Regions from separate parts of the Homo sapiens genome. Here all the other regions are linked to region 2. Evidence: fine-mapped expression QTL. A gene starts in region 2. Each other region holds a variant in brackets. All regions are shown on one strand. Distances are between the middles of the regions.

Region 1 (8,181 bases), 100 kb before region 2:
TCCATTAAACTATTGTTTATTAGCACCAATGGTGTCAGACACAGATGCTGGAGACTGAAATGTGTACGGTGAGCCTGTGGCTGCAGAGCAGGAAGTGGAGCCCGGGGATGGATGGTGGGAGCAGGCTTTGGTAAGAGTGATCAGGAACACCTTTATGAAAACTTCAAAAGCAAATGTAAAGAAAAAAAATCATGTAACGAAGTCCCCTGTGCCCATGTGTGGGCAGTCAGTTTCATGTGCACCTTCTCCTCATTCCTGCTTCCTGCCTGTGTGGGCCGAATAGTGTCCCCTCAGAGTCATGTGCTGAAGCCCCTACTTCCAGGACCTCAGGATGTGACTGTATTTGAAGATGGAGTCTTTTTTTTTTTATTTGTTTTTATTTTAGACGGAGTCTTGTTGCTCTGTCACCCAGGCTGGAGTGCAGTGGTGCAATCTTGGCTCGCTGCAAGCTCCGCCTCCCAGGTTCCCGCCATTCTCCTGCCTCGGCCTCCTGAGTAGCTAGGACTACAGGTGCCCGCCACCACACCTGGCTAATTTTTTTGTATTTTTGGTAGAGATGGGGTTTCACCGTATTAGCCAGGATGGTCTCAATCTCCTGACTCCGTGATCCACCCACCTCGGCCTCCCAAAGTGCTGGGATTATAGGCTTGAGCCACCATGCCTGGCCTGAAGATGGAGTCTTTAAGGAGGTGATTGAGGTAAAATGAGGTAATTGTGTGGGCCCTAATCCAATCTGATGGATGTCCTTATAGGAAGTTATTAGGACACAGAGAGGAATGATCATTGGAGGACTCATGGAGAAGGCAGCCATCTGCAAGCCAAGGAGAGACCTCAGGAGAAACCACCCTGCTAAATTTACCTTGATCTTGGACTTTCAGCATCTAGACTCTAAGAGAATAAGTTTCTATTATTGAAGCCACTCAAGTCTATAATACTTAGTCCTGGCAGCCCAAGAAGGCTAATGCACCAGGTGATTTTGAAGCAAACCCTAGAGTTCAGTTTGTAGATAGAAGTGCAGTAGTAACTCATCAAGACAGAAGAGTAACAAGCCTTATGTTGCTGGTCATTCTGGCCTCATCTGCTGGCTGCCTTAGGGTCTCTGGGGTGAGTTCTGAGGACCAAGTCTACACTGTCAACATGGCCACGGACGAGCTGCTCAGAGTGACAGGACAACCCTCACTGTGCTGTATGTAAACCATAAATCACAGCACACTCTTTGTGGTTGGGAGAACATGTATGGTGTTTTGGGAGCTGGCACAGTCAGGGATGTCATTCATTTCATCTGGGACAGGCTTTGTGCTCTGGGATCTGTGGCGGGAGCAGTGAGCCCAGCCATGTCCTCTGCATGCATCGCTGTGTCCTTGTGAACAGTGGATCTTTGTTAGCGCGCTTCGCACTCCTTGGCTTTTTTATCTTTCAATCAAGAACAGCAACTGCTCTTCAAATGATTCTACAGGTATGAGGGAGTTTACATTTGGATTTGTCAATGGAACCATTAGGATTTTTTGTTTGTTTGTTTTGTAAAAATAAGAACTTTTTTCCTTAGCCTTGTGTCTGTGCCAAAAATGTGACCTTTTTTTTTCTCCCAAGTGTGCCCAAACAGTAACAATTTTTTGCTTGGATTATGTTAAGAATTAGGGCATTTGACCATAGGCATTAGATGTATGTGCAATGAAAGTGATCCCCTTTAATAAGCATAATAGGAACATGGAATTTGGGCTTTTGTTTGCAGCTTAGGATGATGGTGTGTCTTGTAACCCAAGGAGGTTTTTCACTTTTCTGAAAGTGAGAAGACTGGTCAGCCTAAACCCGTGGTGTCACTGTTCTTAAGGGAAACCTAGTTGAGGAGTGGGAGATAACCATTTCACATGTTGTTTTTGTACCTTGGAGAAAAAAAAGAGAGAAGCCTTTATTTAAATCTTTATGTCTATTCTATAGTTTAAAATTCCATACAGGTTTTTTTCAAAAAATCAAATTTGCTTCCTGTGTGTTGTCACCATGAGCTCTCTGGTCAGGTGTGGAAACTGAAATGTTTCCCTTGTTGGTTTATGTGGTGGGGTACATTTTTTTTTTTTTTTTTTTTTGAGGTGGAGTCTTGCTCTGCTGCCCAGGCTGGAGTGCAGTTGCATGACCTCAGCTCACTGCAGGCTCCGCCTCCTGGGTTCAAGCAATTCTGCCTCAGCCTCCCAAGTAGCTGGGACTATAGGTGCGTGTTCCCATGCCCGGCTAATTTTTTTATTTTTGGTAGAGATGGGGTTTCCCCATGTTGGCAAGAATGGTCTTGATCTCTTGACCTCATGATCCACCCGCCTCGTCCTCCCGAAGTCCTGACCAATGTGTGCCTCTGTGTGCCACCGTGCCTGGCCAAGGGTACATGTTCTTTTTTTTTTTTTTTTTTTTTTTTTTTGAGACAGTTTTGCTCTTGCCCAGGCTGGAGTGCAGTGGCGCGATCTCGGCTCACCACAACCTCTACCTCCCAGGTTCAAGCGATTCTCCTGCCTCAGCCTTCCCAAGTAGCTGGGATTACAGGCATGCGCCACCAAGTCCGGCTAATTTTGTATTTTTAGTAGAGACGGGGTTTCTCCATGTGGGTCAGACTGGTCTCAAACTCCCAACCTCAGGTGATCCACCTACCTCGGCCTCCCAAAGTACTGGGATTACAGGCGTGAGCCACCGCACCCGGCCAAGGGTACATGTTCTTAATGAGATGCCTTGGTCAGGTCTAAGTGTCAGTTATGGTGCATGTTGATTTTCTGTCAGATGTCTGAAAATGCCCTAGATATGATTATGTCTAGCTAATTTATTACTGCCATTAGATACATCACCTTTACATAGCTTTTACTTTTCATGCTACTGGGTATAGACAATAACCATAGCCCACCTGCCTGTGCACTTCTAATATCAGGCTGAGTTCAAGTTCCTTTCTAAGGCTCCCCCTCTCACTTAGTATTGTCCGTCTTTCTTGAAAGAGGTATGTGCAGCCTCCGTGTTTGCTTTTTCCAGCACATTCTTCCACCCTCAGCATTTTATGATGAAAATTTTTGGGACAGGCACGGTGCTCACGCCTCTAATCCCAGCACTTTAGAAGGCCAAGGCAGGCAGATCACCTGAGATCAGAAGTTCAAGACCAGCCTGGCCAACATGGCGAAATGCTATCTCTACAAAAATACAAAAATAAGCAGGGCATGGTGGTGTGTGCCTGTAATCCCAGCTACTCCAGAGGCTGAGGCAGGAGAATCGCTTGAACCCGGGAGGCAGAGGTTGCTGTGAGCCAAGATTGCGCCATTGCACTCCAGCCTGGGCGACAGAGGGAGCCTCTGTCTCAAAAAAAAAAAAAAAAA[A/AG]AAAATTTTTGAGTACACCAAAGTTGAAAGAATTTTGCAGTGAATACTTGCACCTAGATTCTGCCACTAACGTTGGCTATACTTGTTTTTTTTTTTTTTTTTTTTGAGACGGAGTCTCACTCTGTCACCTAGGATGGAGTGCAATGGCGTGATTTCGGCTCATTGCAACCTCCGCCTCCTTTGTTCAAGCGATTCTCCTGCCTCAGCCTCCCCAGCAGCTGGGATTACAGGCATGTGCCATCACGCCTGGCTAAGTTTTTGTATTTAGTAGAGATAGGGTTTCACCATGTTGGTGGGGCTGGTCTAGAACTCCTGACCTCAGATGATCCGCCCACCTCGGCCTCCCAAAGTGCTGGGATTACACTCATGAGCCACCCTGCCTGGCCTGGCTATACTTGTTTTATCCCATATCTAGCATTTGTTTATCACTGTACCTGCCCATCAACTCATTTTATTTTTCTGATGCATTCCTCAATAAATTGCAGACATTGTTTCACTTTGATCTAAATACATTAGCATGCATGTCATTAACTAGGGTTCAATATTTGCTTACAGTTTTCTTTTGATGTAAAATTATGTAACAATGAAATACACACTTTTTTTTTTTTTTTAAACAGGGTCTCACTCTGTCACAGAGGCTGGAGTGCCGTGGTGCAATCATGGCACACTGCAGCCTTGACTTCCCAGACTCAAGTGATCCTCCCGCCCCAGTCTCCTCAGTAGCTAGGACTAAATGGGTTTGTCACCATGCCCAGCTAATTTTTTTTATTTTTTGTAGAGACGAGGTCTCACTGTGTTGCCCAGGCTGGTCTTGAATTCCTGGGCTTAAGCAATCCTTCTGTCTCGGCCTGCCAAAGTGTTGGTATTACAGGCGTGAGCCACTGCTCCTGGCCAAATAATACACATCTTCAGTGAATATTAGCTAAATTTTGACAAATGCATACTCCTACGTAACTGAAACCCCTACTAAGAAATAAAATATTACCTACCATCACTGAGAAAATTCCCTTATGCCCCTTAGAAAGTCCTTCCCCCAAGGTAGTACTGTTCTGATTTTTTTCCACCATAGGTTAATTTTGTTCATTCTAGAACTTCATACAGATGGATTCATACAGTATACATTGTGTTGTGCAGGGATCACTGTACTCAGCATAATGTTTTTGAGATTTATCCATATATTGCTGCATGTTTCAGTTGCTGAGTAATATTTTGTTGTATGTTTATGCTGTGATTTGTTTATTCATTTGTTGGAGATTTAGTTTCTTTCTAGTTTGTGTATATATATATATATTTTTTTGAGATGGAGTTTTGCTCTTGTCGCACAGACTGGAATGCAATGGTGTGATCTCAGCTCACTGTAACCTCTGCCTCCTGGGTTCAAGTGATTCTCCTGCCTCAGCCTCCTGAGTAGGTGGGATTATAGGTGCCCGCCACGATGCCTGGCTAATTTTTGTATTTTTAGTAGAGATGGGGTTTCACCATGTTGGCCAGGCTGGTCTCGAACCCCTGACCTCAGGTGATACACTTGCCACGGCCTCCCAGTCTACTTTGTATTTTGAAAAAGCTGCTGTGAACATTTGTGAATGAGTCATTATGTGAACATGTTTTCATTTATTTTGGGTAAATACCTAATAATGGAATTGCTGAATTTTATGGGAACTATATGTTTAACTTTATAAGACACTGCCAAACTTTCTGCTAAATTTTTGTCTCCTAATTCTTTGTTTTTTTCTCTTTCCAGAGACAGGGTCTCATTCTGTAACCCAGGCTGGAGTGTAGTGGTGCAATCAGAGCTCAGTATAACCTCAAACTCCTGCAGTTCTCATGCCTCAACCTCCCAAGTAGTTAGGACGATAGGTGTGTGCCACTATGCCCAGCTAAATTTTTTTTTTTTTTGAGACGGAGTCTCACTCTTGTTGCCCAGGTTGGAGTGCAATGGTGCGATCTCAGCTCACTGCAGCCTCTGCCTCCCAAGTTCTAGTTATTCTCATGCCTCAGCCTCCCTGGTAGCTGGGATTACAGGTGCCCGCCACCACACCCGGCTAATTTTTGTATTTTTAGTAGAGATGGGGTTTCACCATGTTGGCCGGGCTCCTCTCGAACTCCTGACCTCAGGTGATCCAGCTGCCTTGGCCTCCCAAAGTGCTGGGATTATAGGTGTGAGCCACTGTACCCAGCTGGGCTAATTTTTAAAAATTTTTATTTTTATGTTTTATTTTTTAATGGTTGCTTTATTTATTTATTTATTTACTGAGATGGAGTCTCACTCTGTTGCCCAGGCTGGGGTGCAGTGGCGTGATCTTGGCTCACTGCAACCTCTGCCTCCTGGTTTCAATCAATTCTCCTACCTCAGCCTCCCAAGTAGCTGAGATTACTGGTGCCCACCACTATGCCTGGCTAATTTTTGTATTTTTAGTAGAGGTGAGGTTTCAATATGTTGGCCAGGATGATCTCAAATTCTTGATCTCAAGTGATCTGCCTGCCTTGGCCTCTCTAAAAGTGCTGAGATTATAGGTGTAAGCCATCGTGCCCTGCCCTGGCTAACTTTTTAAAAAGTTTTTGTAGAGTATCAGTATTTTAGTATGTTGTCCAGGGTGGTCTTGGACACCTGGCCTAAAGCCACCTTGGCCTCCCAAAGTGCTGGGATTACAGGCATGAGCCACTGCATCCAGCTAATCCTGTCAGTTATTGAGAGAGAGGGTGTTAAGTTCTCTAGTTATTATTTTGGATTTGTTTTTCCCTTTAGTTAGTTTTGGCTTCATGTATTTTGAAGCTCTGTTGTTAAGTACATACACATTTAGGATCATAATATCTTTTTTTTTTTTTTTTTTTTGAGATGGTAGTCTTTCTCTCTTACCCAGGCTGCAGTGTAGTGCTACGATCTTGGCTAACTGCAACCTCCACCTCCTGGGTTCAAGTGATTCTCCTGTCTCAGCCTTCTGAGTAGCTGGAATTACAGGCATGCACCACCATGCCCAGGTAATTTTTGTATTTTTAGTAGAGACGGGGTTTTGCCATGTTAGCCAGCCTGGTCTTGAACTCCTGACCTCAGGTGATCCACCCGCCTCGGCCTCCCAAAGTGCTGGGATTACAGGTGTGAGCCACTGCTCCCAGCCCATAATGTCTTGTTGAAATGAATCTTTTTCATTATGACATGACCATCTTTATTTCTAGTAAGACTTCTTGTCCCAATCTCTTGTCTGATATTAATATAGCTACACCACATTCTTTTTTTGCCTTAGGGACTTTAGCAACTGCCGAAGAGTCTCGCTCTGTCGCCGAGGCTGGAGAGCAGTAGTATGATCATAACTCACTGCAGCCTTGAACTCCTGGGCTCAAGTGATCTTCTGCCTCAGCCTCCCAGGTAGCTGGGAGTACAGGTGTGCGCCACCATGCCTGGCTAATTTTTTTTTTTTTAGAGATGGGGTCTCACTATGTTGCCCAGGTCGTCTCAAACTCCTGGCCTCAGTGATCCTCTTCAGCCTCCCGAGAAGCTGGGGTTACGGCCTTGAGCCAGCCACACCTGGCTACCCCACTTTCTTATGCTGCATGTTTGCATGGTGTGTGTCTTTCAACAAGTCTGGAGTTTTAAACTGCATGCTTTATAAAGAGCATTTTGTTACAGCTTGCTTTTTTATCTAGTCTGATAGTTTCTGCCTTTTAATTGTGAAGTTTACATAATTGATGTCATTATGTTTAAGTCTATCATTTTGATATTTGTTTTCTCTTTCCCTTTGTGCTTTCTTCCTTTGTTTCTCCTTTTTGATTATTTTTAACTCTGTTCTATTGCTACTGGCTTTTTTGCTGTAACTCCTCTATATATTGCTATATATATCCATGTCTTGTCACAGATTACCATCCATTAATATCATTTCTTTCTTGTACACTGTAAGAACCTATCAGCAGTATCATTCCATTTGTACTCCCTCCTGTTTTTTGCAAACTTTTTGGCATATATTTTCTTTCTATACGTGTTATAAATCTTACATTAGATTTTTTTTTTGCTTTAAACAATCGACTTTTCACCTTTTTATATTGAAATGATTTAATTATATATACGTAGTAGACTTAAAGCACACAGAGTATATACAGAGTACACAGAGCCCTCATACGCCTTCCACCCAGATCCCTCAAGTGTTAACATTTCTGAACCATTAAGAATAAGCTGTAGACATAATGCCCCATGACCCTTTAACACTTCAACTGTACCTTCCTTGGTACAAGGACACTCTAACCACACCATTCTGACATCATTAAAATCAGGAAATTGACATCCATTTGATCTTGCTACGTAATTCATGACCCCACCCAGACTTGCTGATTGTTATGATACTTTCTTTATATAGCTCTAGGATCCATAGATTTTATAGATTCAGGATCATGTGTTGCATTTGGTTTGCATGTCTCTTTAGGCTCTTTGAACTTGAAATGGTTCCTAGTCTTTTCTTGTCTCTGATGATTGATATTTTTGAAGATTACAGATCAGTTAGTAGGATGTCTCTCAGTTGGGTCTGTTTTTTCCTCATGAGTTTATGTGTTTTTGATAGGACTGCCACACAGATGATGTATTCTTCTCATTGCATCATATCAGGGAAAATAATGTCGATTTGTCCCATGTTGGTGATGTTAACTGTGGTTACTTGGTTAAGATAGTCTTGCCAAGTTTCTTCATTTTAAAGTTCTTATTTATTCTTATTTTACTTACAAGACTGTAGTTCTCTAGTATCCTTATTTATTTTGAAGCTCAAATTGTCCCAAACTCAGCCAGTGGGAAGCACTTTAAGCTGGCTCTGGTCTCTTATTTGTATTTTTATTTATTTTAATTATTATTACTTTTTTT
Region 2 (8,181 bases):
AGTCCCACCTACTTGGGAGGCTGAGGTGGGAAGATCACTTGAACCTGGAAGGTGGAGGCTGCAGTGAGCTGAGATTGTGCCACTGCACTCCAGCCTGGGTGACAGAGTGAGACTCTGTCTCAAACAACAAAACAAAACACACTGGCTTTTCTCCAGGAAAATAATTTGTTTTTGAGTCAGAGAAGCTCCAACCCCTAAACTGTTCTCTAACAAACCAATCTCGCAGTTTCTGGCAACGTGAAAGTTTCTTAGGAATGCAACTGCTGCAATAAGCAGGAGTCCCTGCAGTGCGTTAGGCAGTGAACCACCACCTTTACCCTCCAGGGACGCGGCACCCAAGCATGCCAGACCCTCAACTGCCTGCAAAGGGAGGAGCACCCCAGGCACAAAGGTTTGCAGGAACGCTTTTGACATATGGGTAAAAAGACCCCCGGTATCACTAAGCCCTGCCCACTCCCAAATGCAGAGGCCTCCTAGGGATGACCAAGCTGCTGCTGCTACCAGCAGCACCTCTGAACAGGCTCTTACTAAATGCCAGGCATCCTTCTGTGTGCGTACCCCCATGAGACACCAACATCCTATGAGAACCATCAGTCCCACTATACAGGTAAACGAAGGTGAACTTATTTCTACATAGTTCTGGGTCCGGAACCTGCACCACAGCCCGTCCTCTCTGCTGGTGCCTGCTTTGTTTCTGAAGAGGGTAACTGCTATTCAGGTACTGTGTCCACAGGGCCCACAGTGTCAACATGGGTGGCTCTAGAGCCCTTTGGCCCTGAATCCAGCCTTGCAGAAGAGAGCAGATGGTAAAACAAGTATGGCTCTGTCCTTTCCTGGGCCAAGTCTCTCAACACTGAACCCTCAGGTTCAGTCTCTGCGCTTATGAATGAGAAGCAGAAACCACACCTTCAAGGAAGTGAGCTGCGAACAGAGAAGCTGCTGTCTGAAGGGCTGGGGAGGAGGGAGAAAGTACTGGAGTAAATTCTAATCTTACAGAAGATCTGGGTGTCTACCTTCCGGTTTCATGGACAGCAGGAAAATCTTTGAAAAGAAAGCTGTTATTACATTACAGATACTTGCCTTATAATTTTGTTACAATGTTCAGTCTTGCATCATAAGACTTTCTTAAATCACATGTGAGTAAAAAGAGTCAATAAACAGCAATTAGAATTGTAGCCAAATAACAAGGGGGCCTAACTAAGTTCATTTTATGAATTATATCCCCAGCAAGAAATAATTATGTACTGTAACCCCAGTCCACACAACACAGGCATATATATACATCCTTAACTAGAACAAAAGTTCCATGAGACATTAGTGAATCCCCTTACTATATGTGATGAATTCTGGTATTTTTTATACTACTCTACCTCATTAAGAATCAGCTGGCCACATCCCACTACACTGATTTTATAACCTGCAGTTTGAAAAGCACTCAGTTAGTGCAACTCCTTCCTTGGATAGTGCCTTTCTCTTCATTACACCTGACAACTGGAAACATGGTTTCAGTGCCCCAGCACTTCCCTTCCAAAGCAGACCAGGGATTTAGGGCCAGTTCAGCCACAGCAGGAGTCTGTACTCCTTTTTTTGTACATGGAGCCCAGGGGAAGACTCTCTAAGAAGGGAGTCCCTCACAGTGAGCAGGAACTGGCTTCTGTAGTCTGAGTTCTGCCCTGCTCAGTGCCACACAAATGGGTCTTGTTGCTTCTCTCCATGGTCATCCTTGGAGGGTCTGAACATGGCTAGATCATGCCCACGTCTGTCTCAAGTTTCAAGGACCTTCCATCAGTCATGCTGCATCTCCTTTGGCTTCAAAAACAGTGCCTTGCCATCAGCCAGACACTGGCAGAGAGCAATACAAGTCAAGACTATATGGTGAGGGGGAAAGCACCCAAAGAACTGAGAAGAACCAGGCTCACTTCCCATGCTTCTATCACTATGCGTCTTGGCTGTCTGTAAGACGAGCATAGCAATATTTACCTAACAGGCCTCTTGTAAGGATAAACAAAGAGAAAGCACGATAAAGCACTTTGAAATTTATAAAAAAATAAAAAATATCACAAGAGATGCAAGGCCCCTGTCTATGCTTGGTAAGCACTGGCTGCTGTGGACCCCAGCATTTCTGGCTGTTTTCCTCTTGTCTATGCTCTCAGACCACACTCCGGCACCCACCTGACTGTTGAGCAGACAGAGAAGTTGATGAAAGTGGGCATCCTGTATGAGCAAGCCTTTATCTTCTGGCTTCTCAGACAGCAAGTGAGAGAGCCGGATAAGTACCATTGCTGCTTGATTGCTGTCCAAGTCGTGACTGCCACCAAGTAGCTCCAGGAGCTCCTCTGGCCTTGTGGCCTTCTTGATGAGGTGGTCCACCTGCTTCTCTATGTAGGGAGTAGATGCTCGTTCCTTCTCCACCGGCTCCATCAAGGAACCTGGGAGGTGGGAAATGGGTGAGGTGGCTGAGGAAGTCAGAGTCTTATGGGCTACCCAGGCAAGTCTCAGTCGGCCAACTGGAGCCATGGCAGGGGCCTGACGAGCAGCTTCTCTCAGGAGGCACGTGCATCGCTTTACCAGGTGAGCTGCCATGATGTCCTGGGTGGCAGAGAGACAAGACTCCTAGCAAGTGATTCCAAACCCTGAAGAGAAAAAGGAGAGAGAAGGGGCTACTACAGGGGCAGTTCCTGACTCACAAACTTGAGAAATGAAATAGTCAAAGCCACTCTATCTGTAAAATCAGACTAAGTCTTTCTTGACAATCCATAGGTATGTGATAGTATTTTCTAAAGCAAAAGTCTCACAGGATTTTTGTTTCAGTACAGAATGCCATCAAATATCAAAACTCAGGAACATTACAGCCTGGGTGGGAGGGTTTCCATCCTGCTTGTAATTTGAAATCACCTAGGATGTGGTTCAATAATTCAGATTCCCAGGTCCTGCCCAAGGCCTCCTAAATGATGGCATCTCTGCAGACACGACCTAGACAGCATTAATTTTTTTTTATTTTTTTATTTCAAGGGTAACCAGGATTAAAAATTACGGGCTTGGCCAGGCGTGGTGGCTCACGCCTGTAATCCCAGCACTTTGGGAGGCCTAGGCGGGTGGATCACTTGAGGTCAGGAGTTTGAGACCAGCCTGGCCAACATGGTGAAACCCCATCTTTACTAAAAATATAAAAATTAGCTGGGCATCATGGTGCACGCCTGTAATCCCAGCTACTTGGGAGGCTAAGGCACAAGAATTGCTTGAACCTGAGAGGCGGAGATTGCAGTGAGCTGAGATTGCACCACTGGACTCCAGCCTGGGTGAGAGACTCCATCTCAAAAAAAAAAAAAAAAAAAAATTCACATTCCCAAAGCCTCTGTGGATATATTTTAACACTGTAGACATAGGTGTGAGCCTCTCGAAACCAAGGTAGATTACATCACTAGCCTACTAAAACCCCCCCACCAAATTTCTAACAGCAAAAATTCTGAACCAATAATAAGAAGCACTTCATAACATGGCCCAGAATGATTTTCTCAGTCTTAGCTTTTTCTGCCTCCCAGCAACACAAGGCCCCATTTTAAACAGGCCTTGCACTTCCACTTCACCTTACAGGGCTTGTTATCTGGGTCTCCTCCTCCCCCTATAAGACCCTTTAAAATACATCTCATCCTTCCAAGGCCAAACTCAATGTTGCCATCTCCAGCAATGTGTTACATATAGCCTTGATGTTGCTTTTAACAATTCTATCGGCCAGGCGCAGTGGCTCACGCCTGTAATCCCAGTACTTTGGGAGGCTGAGGCGGGCAGATCACGAGGTCAGGAGATCGAGACCATCCTGGCTAACACGGTGAAACACCGTCTCTACTAAAAATACAAAAAAATTAGCCGGGCGTGGTGGCGGGCACCTGTAGTCCCAGCTACTAGGGAGGGTGAGGCAGAGCTTGAAGTGAGCCGAGATCGCGCCACTGCACTCCAGCCTGGGTGGCAGAGCGAGACTCTGTCACAAAAAAAAAAAAAAAGAAAAAAAATTCTATCAGCTAGTCTAGCTCCCTACGGTGATTACATGATCCAGGGAAGACATGCGACAAGGGCAAGATAAAACGTTCACCTAGGCCTCATTTCTGCCAAAGCAGAATGTACGTTTGATCTTTCTCCACTTCCTGGAACTTGGTATATGGCCAGCACATTTTCTTTTTATATGAGGGGATTAAAGCAGCTGTAAAAAGCTTAGTCTAACTCCACTTAAAGAAAAAAAAAAAGAGAGAGAGATCAGAGAGTCGGAGTATTTGCCCAAACGCAACATCTACCACTTCCTGAGCCTAAGCACAGTGTAGAAATCTTTCCGACTTATTTTTTTGAGACGGAGTCTCGCTCTGTCGCCCAGACTGGAGTGCAATGCTGCGATCTCGAGTCACTGCAACCTCAGCCTCCCGGATTCAAGCGATTCTCCTGCCTCAGCCTCCCAAATAGCTGGGACTACAGGCCCGCGCCACCACACCTGGCTAATTTTTGTATTTTTAGTAGAGACAGGGTTTCACCATGACCTCAAGTGATCCACCCGTCTCGGCCTCCCAAAGTGCTGGGATTACCGGAGTGAGCCACCGCGCCCGGCCGCCTTTCCAATTTTTTAAGAGCCCTAAGAGCAGTTTAGCCGAGTAAACGGAAGCCCAGGAGCCAGACTTGAGTTTAGGCAAACAGCAATCCAAAACTTTAGTTCTAAAATGCAGAGAGAAAACAACTTGCACTAAGTCACGAAAACTGGCTCGCTGGGGTCATGGACGGTCAACAGGGGCGGCGTCTTCCAGGCCTGGCCGCGCGGGCTAGAGAGGAAGCGTGCGCACTGGCAAGCCAGCACGGAACGAGCAGACGGCCAGGCCCACGGCATCCCACCGCGTCCCAGCCTGCTCCCCAGTTCCACCGCATCCCAGGACCTTCCCAGCCACGCCTGTGTTGTGCACTCGAAACCCACGATCAGCCGCCCCTTCTCCCCGTGCCACAAGACCTACGCAGCGAGCACCACCGCTGACCTCCATCCGCCGCCCTAACTGTCCCCGGAACCATGAGGTGCGCGGCGCGCTTCCCTACGTCACTCGGAGCGCCGGCGGAAACGAGACGAGCCTCGCCCCGCACGTCCGGAAGCCACGCCTCCAGCTTCCGGCCACACCTTTCGGCGGGTGACATCTTTGCTGAGGGCTCAAGCGGAGCGATAGGTCATGGGAAACTTAGAAAAGATAAAGAACCTAGGAAGAAAGGCTTCGGTTGCCCCCCGACCAGTACGCCATCCTCATACGGAGTGCGGGAGACGACCCTTTGTTGTCGGTGCTGTCACCCTATCCCTCCCTGCTTGCGTAGGCGTAGGAGAGTTCCTAGGGCGGTGGAAGACTGGGCTGGTGGAGTGGGATAGGCGACGTTGAGGCCTGTGGGGGCTGGGAGGACGAGTGAGTGGAGACTGGGGAACTCCAGAGCGCCCACTTGCAGCTGGATTTTTATGTGCAATTTTCCTGATTTTTAAATAGTGGTGTTTAATTACAAAGTAAAGTGCAGGATAGCCCAAACGAAATGTATCTGAGGTCTATATATGGACTTGATTAATTTTTACTTCCTGCACAGCCTTTTATTTTCTGTGGAGTTAATAATTACTTGGCTACGCACGGTGGCTCACGCCTGTAATCCCAGGCCTCGGTGGGCGGATCACTTGAGTTCAGGAGTTCGAGACCAGCTTGGCCAACATGGCGAAACCCCGTCTCTACTAAAAATACAAAAAAATTAGCCGGGCGTGGTAGGGCGCACCTGTAGTCCCAGCTACTAGGGAGGCTGAGGCATGAGAATCGCTTGAATCCGGGAGGTGGAGGTTGCAGTGAGCAGCGATCTTGCCACTGCACTCAGCCTGGTTGACAGAGCAAGACTCTGTCGCAAAAAACAAAACAAAAAACATAAAAATAAATAATTACGTTTGTTTGTGTTTGTAAACTAAAAATAAAATTGTAAGCCCCCCAAGCACTGAACGGACCTCCTCTTAGCCAAGGAGACCCCAGAGAAACCTTAAAAACTGAGTTCCCAGCCATTCTGGAAAGGGAGGTTGAACACCCCTTGTTAAAGTAGAGATCATAAGACTAACAGACTTTGTGGTAGTAAGATACCAAATTATAAACAAGACCTAAGGCCGTGCAAGGCAAGGGTTAAGTCAAGCTTGCAGACCATCAATCTTGCTGAAGAGGTCTTTTTTGACCCAGTGTATTGTGGCTGATTCTGGCATACTATCTTAAACATTCTTTTCTGCTGACTCCAAATTTTACACAGAGCCTCACTCTTTTAACCAGTTGCAAATTAAAAAATCTCTTGGTCAAGCTGGCTGAGGTGGGAGGATCACTTGAGGCCAAGAGTTCAAGACTAGCCTGGGCAACATAGGGAGACCCTATCTACCCCTACCAAGAGATCTATCTATCTATCTATCAATCAATCATATATCGTGTATATATCTATGTATTTGAGTCCACATATAACTTGTAAACCCCCCACATCAAGACATCCTGTCTTTTGGAGCCAAACCAGTGTATACCTTCCACACATTGATTTATGTCTTTGCCTGTAACCCCTGGCTCCCTGAAATGTATAAAACCAAACTATAATCTGACTGCCTCGGGAACACTTAAGGCTTTTTGGGTTTGTATTTTCCTGGGGCTGTGGTCACTCATTGGCCCTGAATAAACCTCTTTAAGTAATTTACAGAGTTTGATTTTTCTGTTAACAGTTAATTAAGATTCCATGTATTTATCACAAATTCTACTCCAAATCCTTCACAAGTTGTCTGTCAAAAGACAATATTACAACAGATTTATAGATCTGTTAAAAGAAAAGCTTTAGACAAACTAATGGAGTTTTGTTGAGGAAAGAACCTTGAAAACATGCTAAGGGAAAGAAGTTAGACACATGAGGCCACATATTGTATAGTTCCATTTATATTTGCAATGTCCAGAGTAGGTGAATTGATAGAGTCACCTATGTGATGTTGAGGTGGGGAGAATAGGGAGTGACTTCTGATGGGTTTGAGGTTTCTTTTTGAGATGGTAAAAGTGTCCTGGAATTGGATAATAGGGATGGTTGCACAACACTGAGTATACTAAAAGCCACCTGTGACTTAAGAAATATATATGTGGTCTCTGCATAGAGCTTCTAAAACCCTTGTAACTTTTTTCTTTAGGTTTTCATTAAGGCATTTTATAAAGATAATATCATTTGTATTTATAAAATGTTTGCTACATATACATAATATATATAGTGTATATATAAATTTAAATATGCTCAAGTTACAAAGCAGAATTATGAAAAGAAACCCGTGAACCCATTACTCCACTTAAGAAATAGAATATTACCAATATTGTTGCAATTTTCTGAGAGTTTCCTCTTCTTTCTTATCCCTCCACCCCAGCTAATTGCTATCCTGATGTTTTTCATTTGTGTATGTGTATTTTAATTTAATTTAAAGTTCCAGGATACATGTGCAGGACGTGCAGGTTTGTTATATAGGTAAACGTGTGCCGTGGTGGTTTGCTGCACCTATCAACTCATCACCTAGGTATTAAGCCCTGCATGCATTGGCTACTTATCCTGGTGCTCTCCCTTCCCCCTGTCCCATGGACAGACCCCAGTGTGTGTTGTACCCCTCCCTGTGTCCATGTGTTCTCATTGTTCAGCTCCCACCTATAAGTGAGAACATGCAGTGTTTGGTTTTCTGTTCCTGTGTTAGTTTGCCAAGGATAATGGCTTTCAGCGCCATCTGTGTCCCTGCAAAGGACATGATCTCATTCCTTTTTATGGTTGCATAGTAGTCCATGGTGTATATGTACCACATTTTCTTTATCCAGGCTATCATTGATGGGCATTTGTAAAACACTTGTAACTTCTTGAATGATAGTGACATCTTTTGTTATTCATCATAAGCCCCTTTTAACCATACCTGAGTTTATGCCACTAATGAAGTGGCTTTTGGAAGATGGGAGCTGGTTATCAGAGAAACCAACCATGTGATTAGAGGGCTGAAACTTTTAGCCCCACCTCTCAACCTCCAGAGAGAGGAGAGAGGCTGGAGATTGATTTGATTACAGTTTATCTAAAAGAAGAAACGGAGGCAAAATTAATAAAAGTGGAGAGTTTACATTTGAACCAAAATGAAGACAGCTGCCCAGAAGACTCACATGC
Region 3 (8,181 bases), 87 kb before region 2:
TCCTACCTTAGCCTCCCAAGTAGGTAGGACTACAGGCATGCACTATCTGGCTAATTTTTATTTTTGTAGAAATGGGGTCTCACTATGTTGCCCAGGCTGGTTTCAAACTCCTGAACTCAAGTGATCTTCCTGCCTTGGCCGCCCAAAGTGCTGGGATTATAGGCATGAGCTCCCGCACCCAGCCATCAGCTTGCTCCTTCAACCTTCAAGCTATCGTGTCCTTTCTGGGCTTGTGGGAGTCTCACCTCCGCTTACGCAGTTCAGGGTTCAGCCAAAGATTTGAGGGGACCTTATACTCAGACTTTGGGTTCCTTTTTTAGTGGGTTCCTCCTTTCCTATATTTCCCTCTCAATTTCCAGCTTCTTTAGCAGTCTCAAATCCTCCTTTAACCTGTCAGGCCAATAAAATTGCAGCTTTTTTTTCTCTGCTCCACTCCTCTGAGACTGGGGCATACTCTCAGGAGTAAAGCAATATAAAAGTGGATCTTGCCCAGTGATGTTCCCTTCTTTCAAGGGTCATATAAATTCCAAGCTTCTTTTTTATTTCTTGTTTGTCTCCAGTGTCTTTAGAAGATTGTTTTTCACATTTTATCTAGAGTTCATAATCTCGGTCTGTGAGAAAGTTATTTTGATACAGTCTACTTCTCTCTTAAGGGAATAAGAACTTCTTTGGGTTTATTTTTTCTTGACAGTGTGTTTTGGAGCTCTTTCATTATAGATATATAGTTTCTTTATTCTTCTTTAGGGTGGAATGGCATTTTTATCTGTGGGCTACTGTATTTAAACAGCAGCCCTCCTATGGACTTTTAGGTTGTCATTTTGCTTAAAAAATAATGAAGCAATTAATTTTCTAACCTGTCATGTATGTAATGCATCTGTAGGATTAATTCCCGAAAATGCACTTGCTGGGAAACATAAGTGCATTTGTAATTTTAGTAGATGTTAACAAATTGTTTTGTATGGTAGAACCAAGGTTTATTCTTTTTTTCTTTACCCACCTCTCAAGAGAACAGTTTTTATTAGGTGAAAGTGGTATTTGCTAAAAATTTTGAGTATTTTCCAAAATGAACTTGTTAAGTTTTCTTACTAAAAAATACATTTGTATCTCAGAAGAAAGTAGCAAAATATATTATATGAAAAAAATCACACCCACTAGAAACAACTGTTATTAGTCTTTCACGTTGCTTTCCTGTTTGTGTATGCTTTTCTGTGTTAGCAGTAATAATACAGTCTTATTACCTTGGTATTTATTTCAAACACTTGCTTAGTGCCCACTGTGTAAAGAGCTTTCTGGGGAGCTGTCACTGCCTGCCTGAATCTCCCTCACTGTCTGAGGGTGGTCTTAGTGCTCATGAGGTCGAGAATATCGAGTGCTGTGTCAGAAGGGCAGAGGTCAGGTGGATTTAAAGCTGTTGCACCAAAGCCAGGTGTGGCGACATGCCTGTAGTCCCAGCCTACTCATGAGGCTGAGGTGGGAGGATGGCTTGAGCCTAGGAGTTAGAGAATGCAGTGAGCCATGATTGTGCCACTGCACTGCAGCCTGGGTAATAGAGCAAGACCCTGTCTCTAAAAAATAAAAAAAATAATAAATAGGCTGGCACGGTGGCTCACGCCTGTAATCTCAGCACTTTGGGAGGCCGAGGCGGGCGGATCACCTGAGGTCAGGAGTTCAAGACCAGCCTGGCCAACATGGTAAAACCCCCGACTCTACTAAAAATACAAAAATTAGCCAGGCATGGTGACACATGCCTGTAATCCCAGCTACTCGGGAGGCTGAGACAGGGAGAATTGCTTGAACCCGGAAGGTAGAGTTGCAGTGAGCTGAGATCGCGCCACTGCACTCCAATCTGGGCGACAGAGCGAGGCTCTTTCTCAAAAAAAAAAAATAAAATAAAATAAATAATAAATAAATAAAACTATGCATCAAGCACCATCTCCCTGTCCCCTGGGTATGCCTTTGGAAGTGCAGTTTGCAGAGTGAGTGAGATGAGGCAGGGGAGTAGGAGGAGGAGCTGAGGAGGAGAATGGGGCAGGGGAAGATGAGACAGGGAGGAGGAGGAGGGGAGGAGAGGGGAAGGGATGAGAGAGGGAAGGAAGGTGGAGTCATTGTTCCTGCTGTTGCCTTGCGTGGCTGTGACAGCTGTTGAAGCTGTCTTCTCACAGTTTTGCACACTGTGGGTTATGATTCATTAGTGGCATGTGAAATCAACCATGTAGGTAGCAACCTTTTTTTCATGTAAGAATTTAAAGGATACAAGTATAAAGTTAAAGAACTTAAGGAAAAATTTTGCTAGATTCATTTTGAATTAGAGCTGTCACGTATTTCTTAGCTATCTGCATGGAAAACACCTAGAAGCAATGACAGTCCAATAGCAGTGGAGCACACCTAGGACTTTATTGTAGTCTGAATTGTATGTCAAGTAGTGTGGTTACAGTAAGTGAGGGGATGTAGCTTTTTGCCACAAAATCTGTACTTTGGAAGGTGAATGTGAAGCAATGAGAACAAATGGAGATTATTAATCTGTGCTGTGGTTGGCGTTCAGAATTAGGCCACATTTTAGTATGTTTCATGTGGGGATCATTATTTTTTTTTGGACCAGCTTTTTTTTTTTTTTTTTTTTTTTTTTTTTGAGATGGAGTCTTGCTCTGTTGCCCAGGCTAGAGTGGAGTGCAGTGGTGCGATCTCGGTTCACTGCAAACTCCGCCTCCCGGGTTCACGCCATTCTCCTGTCTCAGCCTCCCGAGTAGCTGGGACTACAGGCGCCCACCACCGTGCCCGGCTAATTTTTTGTATTTTTAGTAGAGACGGGGTTTCACCGTGTTAGCCAGGATGGTCTCCATCTCCTGACCTCGTCATCCGCCCGCCTCGGCCTCCCAAAGTGCTGGGATTACAGGCATGAGCCACCGTGCCTGGCCTTTTCTTTAGAGTTTCTGATGAATTGCTTTTCTTTTTTCTTTCAAAAGAAACATTAAATTTTAAAAAATTTCAGTAGCTTTTGGGGTACAAGTGGTTTTTGGTTACATGGGTGAATTGTATAGTGATGAAGTCTGGCTTTTATTTTATTTTTTGAGACGGAGTCTCATTCTGTTGGCCAGGCTGGAGTGCAGTGGTGCGATCTCGGCTCACTGCAACCTCTGCCTCCCGACCTCAAGCGATTCTCCTACCTCAGCCTCTCGAGTAGCTGGGATTACAGGTGCCCACCACCACGCCTGGCTAATTTTTATATTTTTAGTAGAGACGGGGTTTCACCATGTTGACCAGGTTGGTCTCGAACTCCTGAGCTCAAGTGATCCACCAGCCTCGGCCTCCCAAAGTGCTGGGATTACAGGCATGAGCCACCTCACCCTGCAAGTCTGGGCTTTTAGTGTACCCATCACCCAAAAAGCGTACATTGTATCCAGTAGGTAATTTTTCATCTCTCACCTCCCTCCCACTTTCTCCCTTTCTAAGTCTCCAGTGTCCATTATATCACTCTGTGTGCCTTTGTGTAGCCATAGTTTAGCTCCCACTTATAAGTGAGAGAACCATGCCCGGCCCAGACTTCTTTTTTTAAATGTTCTAATAAAACTTTATTTACGGCTGGGTGCAGTGGCTCACACCTGTAATCCCAGCACTTTGGGAGGCTGAGGAGGGTGGATCACCTGAGGTCAGGAGTTCGAGACCAGCCTGGCCAACATGGCGAAGCCCCATCTCTACTAAAAATACAAAAATTAGCCGGGTGTGGTGTTGCGCGTCTGTAATCCCAGTTACTTGGAAGCCTGAGGCGGGAGAATCGCTTGAACTTGGGAGGTGGAGGTTGCAGTGAGCTGAGATCGTGCCACTGGACTCCAGCCTGGATGACAGAGTGAGACTCCGTCTCAAAAAACAAAACTAACAAAAACAACAACAAAACACAAGAAAACCCCACTTTATTTACAAAAACAGGTGGCTTGCCTGTGTGGTAGAGTTTACTCAGCCTTTTTCTAGAGAATGCCTTGTTATTGTGAATGAGATTCAGTTTTATTATGGTAGGCAGTGAGATTACTGGGAAATCTTTTTTTTTTTTTTTTTGTCGTGTGCATCTTTGTTTAGTCATTATTTTGATAGCTCTGTATCAGTTTTTTTTTTTTTTTTTTTTTTTTTTTTTTTTTTTTTTATGAGACAGAGTTTTGCTCTTGTTGCCCAGGCTGGAGTGCAATGGCACAATCTTGGCTCACTGCAACCTCTGC[C/T]TCCCAGGTTCAAGTGATCCTCCTGCCTCAGTCTCCGTAGTAGCTGGGGTTACAGACATGTGCCACCACGCCCTGCTAATTTTGTATTTTTAGTAGAGTTGGGGGTTTCTCCATGCTGGTCAGGCTGGTCTCGAATTCCCGACATCAGGTGATCCTCCTGCCTTGGCCTCCCAAAGTGCTGGGATTACAGGCATGAGCCACCGCACCCGGCCTCTGTATCAGTTTTGAATTTAGTTCTGGGTGTTTTCCTTACACCTAAAGTGTGGACTTTTTGGATTTCTACTGAGTAGCCAGTTCAGCAAAGTCTCTTCAGCTGATTATAATGTTCAGGAAAGACTCTTCAGCTGATAATAACTTCTGGCATCACCATTCAGCAGTCAGTCAAACATTAAATGATTACCTGTAGGCATTGTGGAGTTTCATCTCTGCATGTCCAGGCCAGCCCTTAGTCAAGGCCCAAGAAACATGTTTTTATCGTCAAGAACTTCTAGGCTCTTAGTTTACATAATGGAATCTTACAGATTTTCCTTTGTTTGCTTGCTGAACACTGTCATTGTCACCCTGGGATTTCTTTTCTCTGCTTCCTGGGTTGGTTCCACTGTTTCTTGGAGTCCACATCTTTTTCTCTCTTGGATGATCCTCGTTTTGCTGGGAGTAGATCCTCTAGTATGTTTTTCAAAAGGGGGTTTTTAGAGTGTAAAGATCCCAAGGCACTGCAGGTGTGAAAATAACTATTTTGCACCTTGATTGACAGTTTGGTTTTAAATTAACTTCCAGATTTAAATTAATTTCCACACAGAATTTTAAAGGGATTACCATATTCCCATTTATCAGGATACATCTGATGCTGATCTGAGTCTTACTGCTTTTACAGGTACTTTTTTTTGCATTTTCTTATTGGAAACCTAAGATTCTCTTGAAATTCTGCAGTTTTGTGAAGATGAGTCTAAATGTTGAGGGTTTGTCTCTTACATTCAGCCTACTTGTTACTGTGCTTTTTCTGTCCATAAAATTGAGTTCATCGTTGTTGTCTTCTGATATTTGTGTCCCTCTTTGATTCTGCCTGCTCTTATTCTCCTCTTAGGAAACTGTTAGACTCGATGGACCCAGCTTCTGTGGCCTTTAATTTTTCTCATGTTAAACTTTTTACCTTTTCACTTTATGTTCTAAGACAGGGTTGGCAAACTTCATGTAAAGGACCAGACAGTAAATATTTCAGGCTGTGTGGGCCAGGGGGCAAAATTGAGGCCATTAAGTAGGTACTTATATAAGAGAGAAAGCAAATTTTCGTAAATTTTTTTATTGATGAAATTCAAGGTATAATAATTGAGTACAATTTTTTGTAATATGGTTCTACTACTGAGAATGGAATTCTTTTTGGGGGCTAACATTTTGCTTAATCAGGGTTCAAAGTTGGTGATTCCCTTTATCGAATTGGTGGCAAATGTTCATCTGTAAAACATTTGCAGCTGTGGCCATCAGCAGCAGGCAGGCATTGGCCAACCCCGCAGTTCTCCTTCACATCATTCTTTGGGCTCTCCGCTATGTCCTTGTTATTATTCTACGAATTTTTTATTTTGGCAGTCATATTTGTAATTTCTAAGATATATTTCTTGTTCTCTGTTCTCTCTTTTTCTTTTTTTTTTTTTTTTGAGATGGAGTTTCACTCTTGTTGCCCAGGCTGGAGTGCAATGGCGTGATCTCACCTCACCGCAACCTCCGCCTCCTGGGTTCAAGTGATTCTCGTGCTTCAGCCTCCCGAATAGCTGGGATTAACAGGCATGCGCCATCACGCCCAGCTAATTTTGTGTTTTTGGTAGAGACGGGGTTTCTCCATATTGGTCAGTCTGGTCTCAAACTTCTAACCTCAGGTGATCTGCCCACCTCAGCCTTCCAAAACGCTGGGATTACAGGCGGGAGCCACTGCACCCGGCCGTTTTCTCTTTTTCATAGCTATCTAGTCTTATTTTATGGATGCAGTTCTTCTCAAGTGTCTCTAAGTATACTAGCTAGAATGTAGGTTCCTGTGCCTGTCTCTTCCCATTTGTTCTTTGGCTTTTCTCTCTCATGCTGACCGTGGGGATCACTGTGTTTGTGAGGGAAGGTTGGGGTTGACTAGTGTTCAGAGCATGTGGGTTTTCTTTTTAGTCATGTCTATTTCCCTGGAATCCTTCCCCTCCCTGCAGTAGCCAAAATAGAGGTGAGGCTGCTCAGCTGAGTGGCACCTCTTTCTGTATCTCCCTCCTGGTTTGCCTTTTTCCCTTTGAGCCTACCTGAAGGTCAGGGTCAGCTGGTTCTGCCCTGTATAGGCAACTTTTAGGAAGGAGCAATCTGAAATTGTGACTCTACTCTGGTTTTTAAAGACAGAAAGTGACAGTCCAGTTAATACCGGATATTGACTCAAATCTAGTTCTGATGCTGCTTTTCCAACTTTATGACAGTTTCTACATCTGTGGTATATGGAATAATAATTGAAGCACTAAATTTTATTCTGAAGCAATCAGTCTTTTTGGAATCAGGAAATATTAAACTTTATTTGTTACAGGTTAATGAAATAGAATTGTATGAAAGTACCATTTTTATAGCCAAAACACTGTTGAAAATCAGCACTTTGATTTGGTTCAACCTAATATTTAAAAAATTATATTGTAATTGTTATGTTTATTTATTGATCTGTGAATATAGTCACTCTAACCAGATTTTTTTTTTTTTTTTTTTTTTTGAGATGGAGTCTCACTCTGTTACCCAGGCTGGAGTGCAATGGTGCTATCTTTTCTTACTGGAACCTCTGCCTCCCAGGTTCAAGCGATTCTCCTGCCTCAGCCTCCCAAGTAGCTGGGATAACAGGTGCCCATCACCACGCCCGGCTAATTTTTCTACTTTCAGTAGAGACGGGGTTTCACCGTGTTGGCCAGGCTGGTGTCGAACTTCTTACCTCAGGTGATCCACCTGCCTCAGCCTTCTAAAGTGCTGGGATTACAGACATGAGCCACCGCACCCAGCCAACCAGAATATTTAATTAAGTAGCCCTCCCTATTTGCAAGCCATTCTGGAATTATCAGAGTTCTAAGAGCCTTCACCAGCAACAGATCCAACTTCTGCTTTTCTAGATTAGGAAATTTGCCTTGAAGAAGTGAGCTTGGCCAGAGGCACGCTGTTTAATTTCAAAGTGCTGCTGACTCAAACTCATGAGTCCTGGAGGCAGGTAGAGGCACTTGTAGGCTGAGGACCCGTAGAGCCCGGTGTGCCCTGCCCAAGCCCCACCTGGGAATGGAGTTATCTCTGTAAAGATCTTGCTGCCTTTGAGCAAGCACTGCAAATGGGGTAACTGGAACAGCCTTGTCGCGTGTTTCCACCCTTCGTATGAGGCAGGTACCATGGGTCTTCACCAACAGCACGGCCTGTTGTCTCCAGGAAATGGTAGCCCCTCACAGTGCTTTCTGTCTGCTTGTTTAGCTTTGGCATTTGAATGTGCAGAATGGTGGACTTTGAAATTAATGTCCTTCTGTTGACTGCAGAATTTCTGCTGGAAATGCAGGGAGGCTGCTTGTGGGGTTCGCGTGCTGTGGGAAGTAGGGAAAATGAGCTGGTTTACTTTGTGTCTTTTTGTGCATGCAGACTGTTTGGATTTTGCCAACAGTTTCTGGGTGCTGCCTGCTTTTTAAACTTTTAAAAAATTGTAAACAGCTTCAGTGGCTTTGCAGAAGGAAGCTGTGGTTTCTGGTCTTCCTGTTCAGTCATGTTTTTTTCAGAGGGAGGGCTAACATCTGGCCATATTTTTCAACAAATTCAGAAGTGAGTAGAGAATGCATAGTAGCTGTCGGCAGAGGAGGAACCAGAATCTCTCCAAAGAAATTCCTCAAACAGAATTTCACACAGGGTATTCCATGGAGAATGAGGTAGGTGCAAGTCCAGTGTGGAAAGCGCCATTTAGAATGATGATGGTGTGAGTCCCTTGTGGGTGGCTTTCATG

Which allele goes with the higher level. Positions count from the first base shown, and alleles are read on the strand shown. Sizes are in standard deviations (SD) of each study's normalised expression. Not every link is listed here.
For the expression in monocytes of the gene that starts at base 5,043 in region 2, allele A in region 1 goes with a higher level than allele AG (moderate effect, 0.51 SD a copy in Fairfax 2014).

What was found. PIP is the estimated chance that this variant, and not a neighbour inherited with it, causes the effect.
Region 1: its variant is fine-mapped to the expression of TBRG4 in monocytes (Fairfax 2014, PIP 0.92).
Region 3: its variant is fine-mapped to the expression of TBRG4 in whole blood (INTERVAL, PIP 0.97).

Annotation. Positions count from the first base shown.
Region 1 is chr7:45,005,977-45,014,157 of GRCh38, forward strand. The region is part of intron 1 of CCM2 (CCM2 scaffold protein); the gene reads left to right. Among named protein-coding and RNA genes, the nearest start is that of CCM2, 9.9 kb to the left of the region's middle. The variant A/AG (reference allele first, on the strand shown) is at 3,342.
Region 2 is chr7:45,106,655-45,114,835 of GRCh38, forward strand. TBRG4 (transforming growth factor beta regulator 4) reads right to left here and starts at 5,043. Exons shown (of 11, transcript NM_004749.4): 1 at 4,989-5,043; 2 at 2,173-2,633. The coding sequence starts at 2,583. RefSeq lists enhancers at 4,742-5,451, 4,815-5,570.
Region 3 is chr7:45,019,691-45,027,871 of GRCh38, forward strand. The region is part of intron 1 of CCM2 (CCM2 scaffold protein); the gene reads left to right. Among named protein-coding and RNA genes, the nearest start is that of CCM2, 24 kb to the left of the region's middle. RefSeq lists a silencer at 7,407-7,476 and an enhancer at 7,867-7,916. The variant C/T (reference allele first, on the strand shown) is at 4,209.